Linked DNA regions of Homo sapiens. The protein of the gene in region 1 interacts with the protein of each later gene in a pairwise test. Each region holds a gene or a part of one and is shown in the gene's direction. Other genes may lie near its edges. The genes, in order: TBX3 and PRR20C.

Evidence for each region.
Region 2: the proteins of TBX3 (region 1) and PRR20C interact in a two-hybrid assay, tested with the Homo sapiens proteins (one large-scale study listed by BioGRID).

What each region holds. Positions count from the first base shown.
Region 1 is NC_000012.12:114,681,116-114,685,657, reverse strand, and holds the start of TBX3 (T-box transcription factor TBX3), read left to right. Parts: upstream 1-1,482; 5' UTR 1,483-2,457; coding exon 2,458-2,846; intron 2,847-3,023; exon of another isoform or gene 3,024-3,366; intron 3,367-4,511; coding exon 4,512-4,542.
Region 2 is NC_000013.11:57,152,569-57,156,878, forward strand, and holds the start of PRR20C (proline-rich protein 20C), read left to right. Parts: upstream 1-1,492; 5' UTR 1,493-1,706; intron 1,707-1,860; 5' UTR 1,861-1,879; coding exon 1,880-1,931; intron 1,932-2,952; coding exon 2,953-3,566; 3' UTR 3,567-4,310.

The sequences.
Region 1 (4,542 bases):
GTTGGTAATTCGGCGATTGGTAAGATCCGGTCGTTTCCCTCCCGTCCGCCTAAGAGGAGGCCCCCACCCTACCCGTACTAAAAACAGTCAACTCGCCTCTGAGGTGGGGGCGTTTCACGGTTTGTTTTACAAATTCACCCTCCCTCCCCGACTTCTGGCCAGATTAAGTCCCCGGGGTGGAGAAAGAACTGAGGCACCGAGAGATAAGTGCGATGCCTAGAGAAGATACCAGGCTGGCGCGCCTCCCCCAACCCAATCGCCCACCCCTTACCCTGTGCTGTGCACCCAGCCGGGCCTCGAGGTGAGGGCAGCGGCTTGGAGGGGACAGGCTCAGAACCCAGTCTCTCGCTGTGCTCGCTTTGTCCAGATCCTCCATTCTCTTCTCTACACCCACACCCACATCCAGGTGGAATATGGGGGCCCGCATGCAAATGAAAGACGAGATCCAAAAGGGCTGGTAAATGCATTTCATAAAAATCCCAAATCCATCTTCCCCAGGAGCTCAGGCAGGGCCAGCCGCGCAGGCTGTGTACGTGTTTGTGTGTACGTGTTTTTCGGTGTGTGTTTCAGTCCCAGTGTGTTGGCGCGTGTTCGAGTACAGATACACCGGGGGTGTTTGGGTACCCGCACATGGCTGCGGGTGGGGCGCAGTGGAGAGGAAGCCCACACATGCGTGTGCTGAGATATGGCCGCATCCTTGTGCTCCCCCAGCCCAGACGCAGGGGAGACCAGCACCGAGACACCCGAGCTCGGGAGCCCTTCAGCGGCGGCCGGGCGGAGCTTGGCTCCACGTGGGGCTGGAGAGCACGCAAGCCTGGAGTCTCGGCGCTCGCTTCTCGGCTGCCGCCGGCTTTTGTAGAACCGAGTGGCCGGATGGCAGCTCGCGGGGAGGCTCGGCCACCCGCCCGGCTCGCCCGGGGCGGGGAGAAGAAGGAGAGCTGGAGAGAGAACCGGCCGCGGCGGTCGGAGAGGCGAGCGGAGTGCAAGAGAGGCGAGCGCCCCTGCCCGGCGCCCGGGCGCGCTCTCCGCCTTCCCCGCCCGGCTCGCCTGCTCGCTGGCTCCCTCCCTCTCTCCCTCCCCCTTCCTCCTTGGCCCTGCCTCCTCCCTCGATCCCCGGCTGGATGACTGAGGCATTTCAGACGTGGGCTGAACCAGAGCGAGCGAGCGAGCTCAGGGGCTGCAGCGATCTCTCGATAAGCCACCTAGAGGCGACTCTGTGCGCGCGCGCTCCCCAGTGGCTCCCGCCCGCCCTCTGATCATGTTGACATATTCACAGGACAGGCAGTAGTACCGATGCGGCGCTGCGACGTTACAGTTTCCGACACCTTCTTTTTATAACTCAGCTCTATCCCCCAGCACTCGACCTGTGAAAACCACGCCTATGCAGCAACACAATTGGTCCGAAAGCGTCAAAGAGCCAATCAAGAGGCCTCCGGCTCCCCGCAGCCCACAGCGCAGCCCGACCTTCTAGAGCCGCCGAGCAGACGCCCGGTGAATTCTAGAGGCGGCGGAGGGTGGCGAGGAGCTCTCGCTTTCTCTCGCTCCCTCCCTCTCCGACTCCGTCTCTCTCTCTCTCTCTCTCTCTCCCCTCCCTCTCTTTCCCTCTGTTCCATTTTTTCCCCCTCTAAATCCTCCCTGCCCTGCGCGCCTGGACACAGATTTAGGAAGCGAATTCGCTCACGTTTTAGGACAAGGAAGAGAGAGAGGCACGGGAGAAGAGCCCAGCAAGATTTGGATTGAAACCGAGACACCCTCCGGAGGCTCGGAGCAGAGGAAGGAGGAGGAGGGCGGCGAACGGAAGCCAGTTTGCAATTCAAGTTTTGATAGCGCTGGTAGAAGGGGGTTTAAATCAGATTTTTTTTTTTTTAAAGGAGAGAGACTTTTTCCGCTCTCTCGCTCCCTGTTAAAGCCGGGTCTAGCACAGCTGCAGACGCCACCAGCGAGAAAGAGGGAGAGGAAGACAGATAGGGGGCGGGGGAAGAAGAAAAAGAAAGGTAAAAAGTCTTCTAGGAGAACCTTTCACATTTGCAACAAAAGACCTAGGGGCTGGAGAGAGATTCCTGGGACGCAGGGCTGGAGTGTCTATTTCGAGCTCAGCGGCAGGGCTCGGGCGCGAGTCGAGACCCTGCTCGCTCCTCTCGCTTCTGAAACCGACGTTCAGGAGCGGCTTTTTAAAAACGCAAGGCACAAGGACGGTCACCCGCGCGACTATGTTTGCTGATTTTTCGCCTTGCCCTCTTTAAAAGCGGCCTCCCATTCTCCAAAAGACACTTCCCCTCCTCCCTTTGAAGTGCATTAGTTGTGATTTCTGCCTCCTTTTCTTTTTTCTTTCTTTTTTGTTTTGCTTTTTCCCCCCTTTTGAATTATGTGCTGCTGTTAAACAACAACAAAAAAACAACAAAACACAGCAGCTGCGGACTTGTCCCCGGCTGGAGCCCAGCGCCCCGCCTGGAGTGGATGAGCCTCTCCATGAGAGATCCGGTCATTCCTGGGACAAGCATGGCCTACCATCCGTTCCTACCTCACCGGGCGCCGGACTTCGCCATGAGCGCGGTGCTGGGTCACCAGCCGCCGTTCTTCCCCGCGCTGACGCTGCCTCCCAACGGCGCGGCGGCGCTCTCGCTGCCGGGCGCCCTGGCCAAGCCGATCATGGATCAATTGGTGGGGGCGGCCGAGACCGGCATCCCGTTCTCCTCCCTGGGGCCCCAGGCGCATCTGAGGCCTTTGAAGACCATGGAGCCCGAAGAAGAGGTGGAGGACGACCCCAAGGTGCACCTGGAGGCTAAAGAACTTTGGGATCAGTTTCACAAGCGGGGCACCGAGATGGTCATTACCAAGTCGGGAAGGTAAGCAGTGGGGGCCTCCTCCCCTAAGCTGTTGGAGAGTTTTTTCCTCCCTTTATTTCTCTGCTCCCAGAACAGTCGGTTGGTCGGTTATTACGGCTTGGACGAAAAGTTAGTTCCCCTAGAAATGTATGCACAGACTTCCAGGCCCTGCCCCGGTGGCAGGAAATTTCAGCTTACCTGGGCATCTGCATGGGTCTTGCATTTGGTCTGCATCCTGGGTTCCCTCCCGAACAGACAGAATTTTTCAGTGGAGCACAGACATCCCTGCAGGGAGCAGGAAAGAAAAAAAAAAAAGGCACTCTACTGCAAGAAACTCACTCTTCAAACCCTCCTGGAACATCCTTATTTCTTTGTTGATGTTGTGTTGTCTGTTTTATTTTGTTCTCAGAGAGAAAAACTTAAAGCCCTTTCCTTTTGTGTGGGTATTGGGAGGCCTGACACCATTCCCCGGCCCTTTCTGCCCTCCAGTCTAGCCTCTGGGTCTAAAGGGGCCTGCTGCTGCCCTGGTCAGAGAGAAATCGAAGGGCATTTTGGTTTGTTTGCCCACACTACTTCACGTGTCTGTAACCCAAGGGCGAGTTCAGCAGGCAATTTTGCATAATTTAAGATTATGTTTGCAGACTTAAGGAGCCAGTGAGGAGACACACACCTTTTTTTTAATGTGTGAATATTATCAACCATATTTTACATAATGTTTAAAGGTCCTTGCCTGACCAAAACCTGCCTGGAAGAGAAGATCCTGTAATAGTCATTTAAAATCACTGATTTTTTTTTTGTAATAGCATTGAAGCCTGTAAAGGCATAAAGTTGATACAAAAATAAAATCCCCTTCATGATATCTTAAGCGTTCTGTCTCCTTCCAAGCTAAATGAGGCCAAAGTTTGGCATAAAATCCTCCTCAAACTCACAAGACATTTAGTCAGTTTTCCAGCAAAGTGCTTCCTTGCTTCCTTTTAAGTCAAGACTACAGAATGCCAACCCTTCTGTGAAATTAACAGCAATGTGGTGGCACAGTCTTGCGGTTTTGGACTGGCCTAAGAAGTGGGGGAATGTGTTAGCAGCTCCACGGGCAGATCGGTTATCAGGCCCAGGAGTGCACCGAAGTCTGCAAAATTCGTTCTGGGAACTCACTGAAGTCCAGTTTCACTTCGCCCACAGCGGGATTGCTATTCTGCAGCAGGGAGGGGTGCAACTTGACGTTCATTTCCTTGATAAGTTTAACATTTTCTCATCAATGGGTGGTGGAAAATTCTAGTCTTAACTGACCGCGCTTTACAAAAATCTTACCCCAACCTGTTTAGATCTAGATACCCACAGAAAAAGACATGGGCAAGAATTTGCTCTCAGGAGGGCAATCTGTAAAGTCAAGCAAGGACAAAAAAAATATTGAAGAAATTGTTAGACAATGTAGAGAATTGCAGTGCCACAATGCATTTGTTTTGAACCTTGGGACGTCTAAATATGGCGAAACTGAGAATATTTAATACGTTAGTTGTGGAAGAAAACGATTTTGCAACCAGTTGCCTCACTCTGAAACATGTAAGCTTATCAGTCACAATATAAAGTCTTAGACTTGGTTTCAATATTATGTGATACATAGGAAATCAAACCCAAGATTACGGGTGGTTTATCTTTCTTTTTCTTTTCTATTCTTTCGTTTTATAGGCGAATGTTTCCTCCATTTAAAGTGAGATGT
Region 2 (4,310 bases), on another chromosome or scaffold:
ACAGAAAAGGTATGTGAGGTGAAAGCATAGCAAAACCTCACTTCAACAGGAAATACAACCCAAAAAAATAATTGGCCCGGCATGGTGGCTTGCGCCTGGGGTCCCAGCGACTCGGGAGGTTGAGCGGGACGGACGGCTTGAGCTCAGGCCTTCCAAACAAGCCTGGGCACATAGCGAAACCTCGTCTCTCCAAAAAAATCCGAAAATTATCCCGATGTGGTGGCGCTCACCTGTAGTCCAGCTACTCCGGAGGCCGAGACAGGAGAATCACTTGAACTGATTCTCCTATCTCAGCCCGCCCCGCCCCCCCCCCCCCCCCCCCCAAGTAGCCGCAGCGAGCCGAGATGGCACCGCTGCACTCCAGCCTGGGCTACAGAGCGAGAACCCGTCTCTGTAAAAGACACAAGGATGCAAACCAACCAAATAACCCACTGTGGGATCCCCTCCAGCGTCCTGCTGTGTTTCCCGCTGTCTTCCTCCACCCGTGAGTGCACCCACAGCAATAAAAGCCAGCGGTGTGGGTCTCACACGCATCTCCAGCCCCGTCGCCATCGCGCTGAGCTCGACTCTTTTTACAAAAGGCCACTTGACATCCTCACTTGGCAGTTCAAAAGCCCCTTCAACCAGATGTGCGCAAGCCAAGCTCCGCAACTTCCCGTTCAGAGCAGGTTCTCGGTCCACCTCTGCCTGAATGAACCGGCGGGCTACCAAGGCCGCAGTCTCTTCCTCAAGGGCTGTCCACACTGGGTCTCGCTTTCTCTTGGAAATTTCTCTCCCACCAGGGAACTTTCTCCTCCTCTACCTCCCTGAGTCTCAGTCTAACAGCACCCTGCGCCCAACCCCGAGGGCTGCAATAGCCTTCTTGCCTCTCCTGACTTATTCTGCGGACCCTGGGTTGGCGCTCCTTCACAGCCAGGCTGGTCGTTTCTGAAATGTTAACCCGCTGCCGGACACCGTTCCACGGTTTTCCGCTGCCTTGGAACAAGACCAGCTCCTGCGCGGACCCTGCCTCCACCTCGCACCACCTCCGGGCCTGGACTTGGCCTCCCGTCCATTCCCAGAATGTGCCGGGCTCCCTTCCAGTCCGGGCCTCAGCACACTCTCTTCACTCCCCTTCCTCCCTCCCTGCCTCTCCCAACCCGGTTCAGGATGACTAATTTCAAACGTTATGTTCCAGATTTCAGCCCAGATATCCCCGCTTTGGATGCTTTCCTTGACCATGCTCAGATCTAAGCTAATCGCATCTTCCTGTCAGCCGCTTTCAGGGCACCACACCTCATTGTGCTGACACTCAGAGGTCATTATGCAATTTTTTTTCCTCGATGATTAGATTAATCAATCAACCACGGACGTCTAGAAATGGCGGCATCTCAGAAGGGCCCCCATTTGACTGGCAGGGGACTGGCCCAATGCGCCTCGCAAGCCCAGCCAGGCCCGCCCCAGCCGGCCCCCCTCTGACGACGCCTGTCCCTTACGCGACTGCCTTGCTGCCATATAAGAGGGACGGCGCTCGGCCTCCAGCAGTCGGCTTTCTGCTGGGCTCGGAGCCAGAACCTGCTGCGTGCTCCCTCCAGACTCCCTGGCTGCGGGTGGACTACCTCAGAGCTACAGCGGTGAACCTGTGGACACCTCCGACTCCTCGGGCCTCTCTTCGTCGAAGAGTCTCCTAATTTTCAGATCTCCGGAGCCAGCTGTGGGAAGATCAGGTGTGTGTCTGGGGGTCCCGGAGGCGTGGACGGATCTCGGGTGGGTGCAGTTGGGGACAGAATCCTCATTCCCCTAGAAAGGCCACGGCCATCCCCCTGCCTTGTCACCTCTGTCTTCCTAAATCCGTTCTTGCTCTCTTGTTTTTCTCCCCAGCCCCTCCCGCCGATTGCTCATGGAGGAACCAAGGCCTTCGAAGCGACTTCGCTCCATGGCCCCTAATCAAGGTACATCAAACGCCTGCCACTCCTCTCTTTTTAATTTCGTCTGTTCCCCAATTCTTCCCCAATGGTTGACACTCAAACTCAATCAAGCATTCTCTGTTTCACCTTCTCCTAGCCTGCCTCAACCTGGGCTGCTTGTTGGAAGTCAGCTCCCGGGTTCCACATCATCTGGGAAATTCCTTTCCCTCTTCCGAACCGTAATCCCATTTCCCAAATCTGAGATTTGCTGTTGTTGTCGCTGTTTCCTTCTGTTTAGTTTTGTATTACTGTTTCTCCGTAGCAGAGCGAGTCCTCACGCTACGTCTTGATCTATGATAAACCGGTACTTCCACCTTGTTCTTTCCCGGAGGAGTTGGAATTTTCCGGCTGTTGCCACGTTGTTCTCCAAAACTTTTCCCTTCATACGCTGAGTGTCCTAAATCTTTTAATCTTGTCTAGTTTGACAGATGCATAACAATAAAGCATCCACTGAAAGGAAATTCTTTAACATCTTGCTTGTCTGAAACATCTTCATTCTCCCCTCCCAGATTCTTCAGCGAAACTTCGGTTGGACAGGAAATTTTAGGTGGGAAATTCATTTCCCTTGAAATTTCGAAGACATTTTCTGTTATGTTCTAGACTGAACTGCTGCTTTTGAGATGTCTGACTTTTGAGACATGTGGAATCCTAGCCCTTTCCATGTGACTTTTCCTTTCTCTGTCTCCCGCTCTCTAGAATCTGTTAGAATCTTCTCTTTTTCCTCAGCACTCTGAAATTTTCTGGTGAAATGTCTCAGCCACAGCATACCTCTAATTCTCTTATATTTCATCCTTCTTTCCATCATTTTAGGTTTTTGCTTTGTTCTGTGGGAGACCTTCTCAACTTCATTCTCCAACTTCCGTGGAGAGTTTTGTTTCTTCTCTCACAATTTTAACTTCAGAAATCCCTCTTTTCTCTGAGTATTTATTTGTAAAAGTATCCTATAACTGCTTGACGGGTGAAGTTCCTTCTGTCTCTCTCTGCTCACGCTCCGCTTCTCTTTTAGCCTCAGGTGGGCCTCCTCCAGAGCCAGGCTGCTGTGTTGCGGACCCTGAAGGCTCCGTGGAAGCAGATGGGCCCGCACAGCCAGCCCAACCCGCAAAACCCATCGCTTACGTGAAACCCTTCAGACGGCAGCCCCCAGCTCGCCCAGAGTCACCCCCTCCTGCAGAGAGAGGCCGGCGCCGGGGAGGAAGCCGGCGGCCAGGGCGAGGCCGTGGCAGAAGGGCTGGGCCCCGCGGGGACGCTGGCCAGAGACAGGGGGCAGAAGGCTTGATGGCACCGGACGTGCACATCCAACTGGACCACCATGGAGAGCCAGGCCACCAGGGGGAACCGGAAATCACGGAGACCGCAGCCTTCTCCCTTTCTGAAACAGGTCCTCCGCCTGGAACTGTGCAGGAAGGCCCTGGCCCCGACGTGGCGCAACCTGAGCTGGGGTTTCAGGAGCCGCCCGCTGCTCCTGGGCCTCAGGCTGTTGACTGGCAACCCGTCTTGACCCTCTATCCCTGCATCGGGTTTAGGGCTCTGGGTGACTCAGCGGTTTTACAAGTCATTCAAACCCCCCAGGGCACCTACGTGCAAGGGGTCCCAGTGTTCCTCACCGACATTGCGTATTGACCACTATCTGCCACCCACGTTGTTCCCAGCCTCCCTTCCTTCCACCTGGACGTTCCCCCCAGCCCCACTTCTGCTCCACTCCTCCCCCGACTGGACCTGAAGCCTGAGCTTCCCCTGAACTTGGAGTACGCAACTTACAACATGCAAGCTGCCAAACACCCTTTCTGTACAAGGCGATTGGAATGGAACTGTCATGTACAGTGAAAGTACACGTCACGTTTTTCAGCCAAGAAGAAGCCAACCCAGACAACCTGGAAGAAGTGGGATGCAACAAGGATCACTAAGCATGGAAATTAGGAAACTGTATTCTTAAGTCCAGAGAAGTACGATTCTGGAAAAAGGATTGATGACCTAGAATTAAAATTCCAGAAGACACTCATATAGACATGTGGGACATGCGAAAACTCAGAAGGAGCTAGAAGTTACTAAAGTGCTTCTCTAGTGCCTGGAGACGATAGACTGGCTGAATATAAGAGCAATAAAAATCTAGACTGACACATTTTTAAGTCTCAACGTGGGTACCCTTTGGGAACCACTAAATGAATTGGAATAGAAGGTAAAATTTCAAACAGATTGAGGAAAAAGGGGATCAAAGGACATGTGACGAATCAGACAAAAGGTGTTGGGGTGGGGGGGGGGGCGGTTAACGGAAGCAAGGAGAGTGCATGACTCACTGGAACCGCTAAACCAGGAATCAGTAATTTGACGGCAGTGTCCTTGGCTTCCTCCTGGCTTTAATGGGAA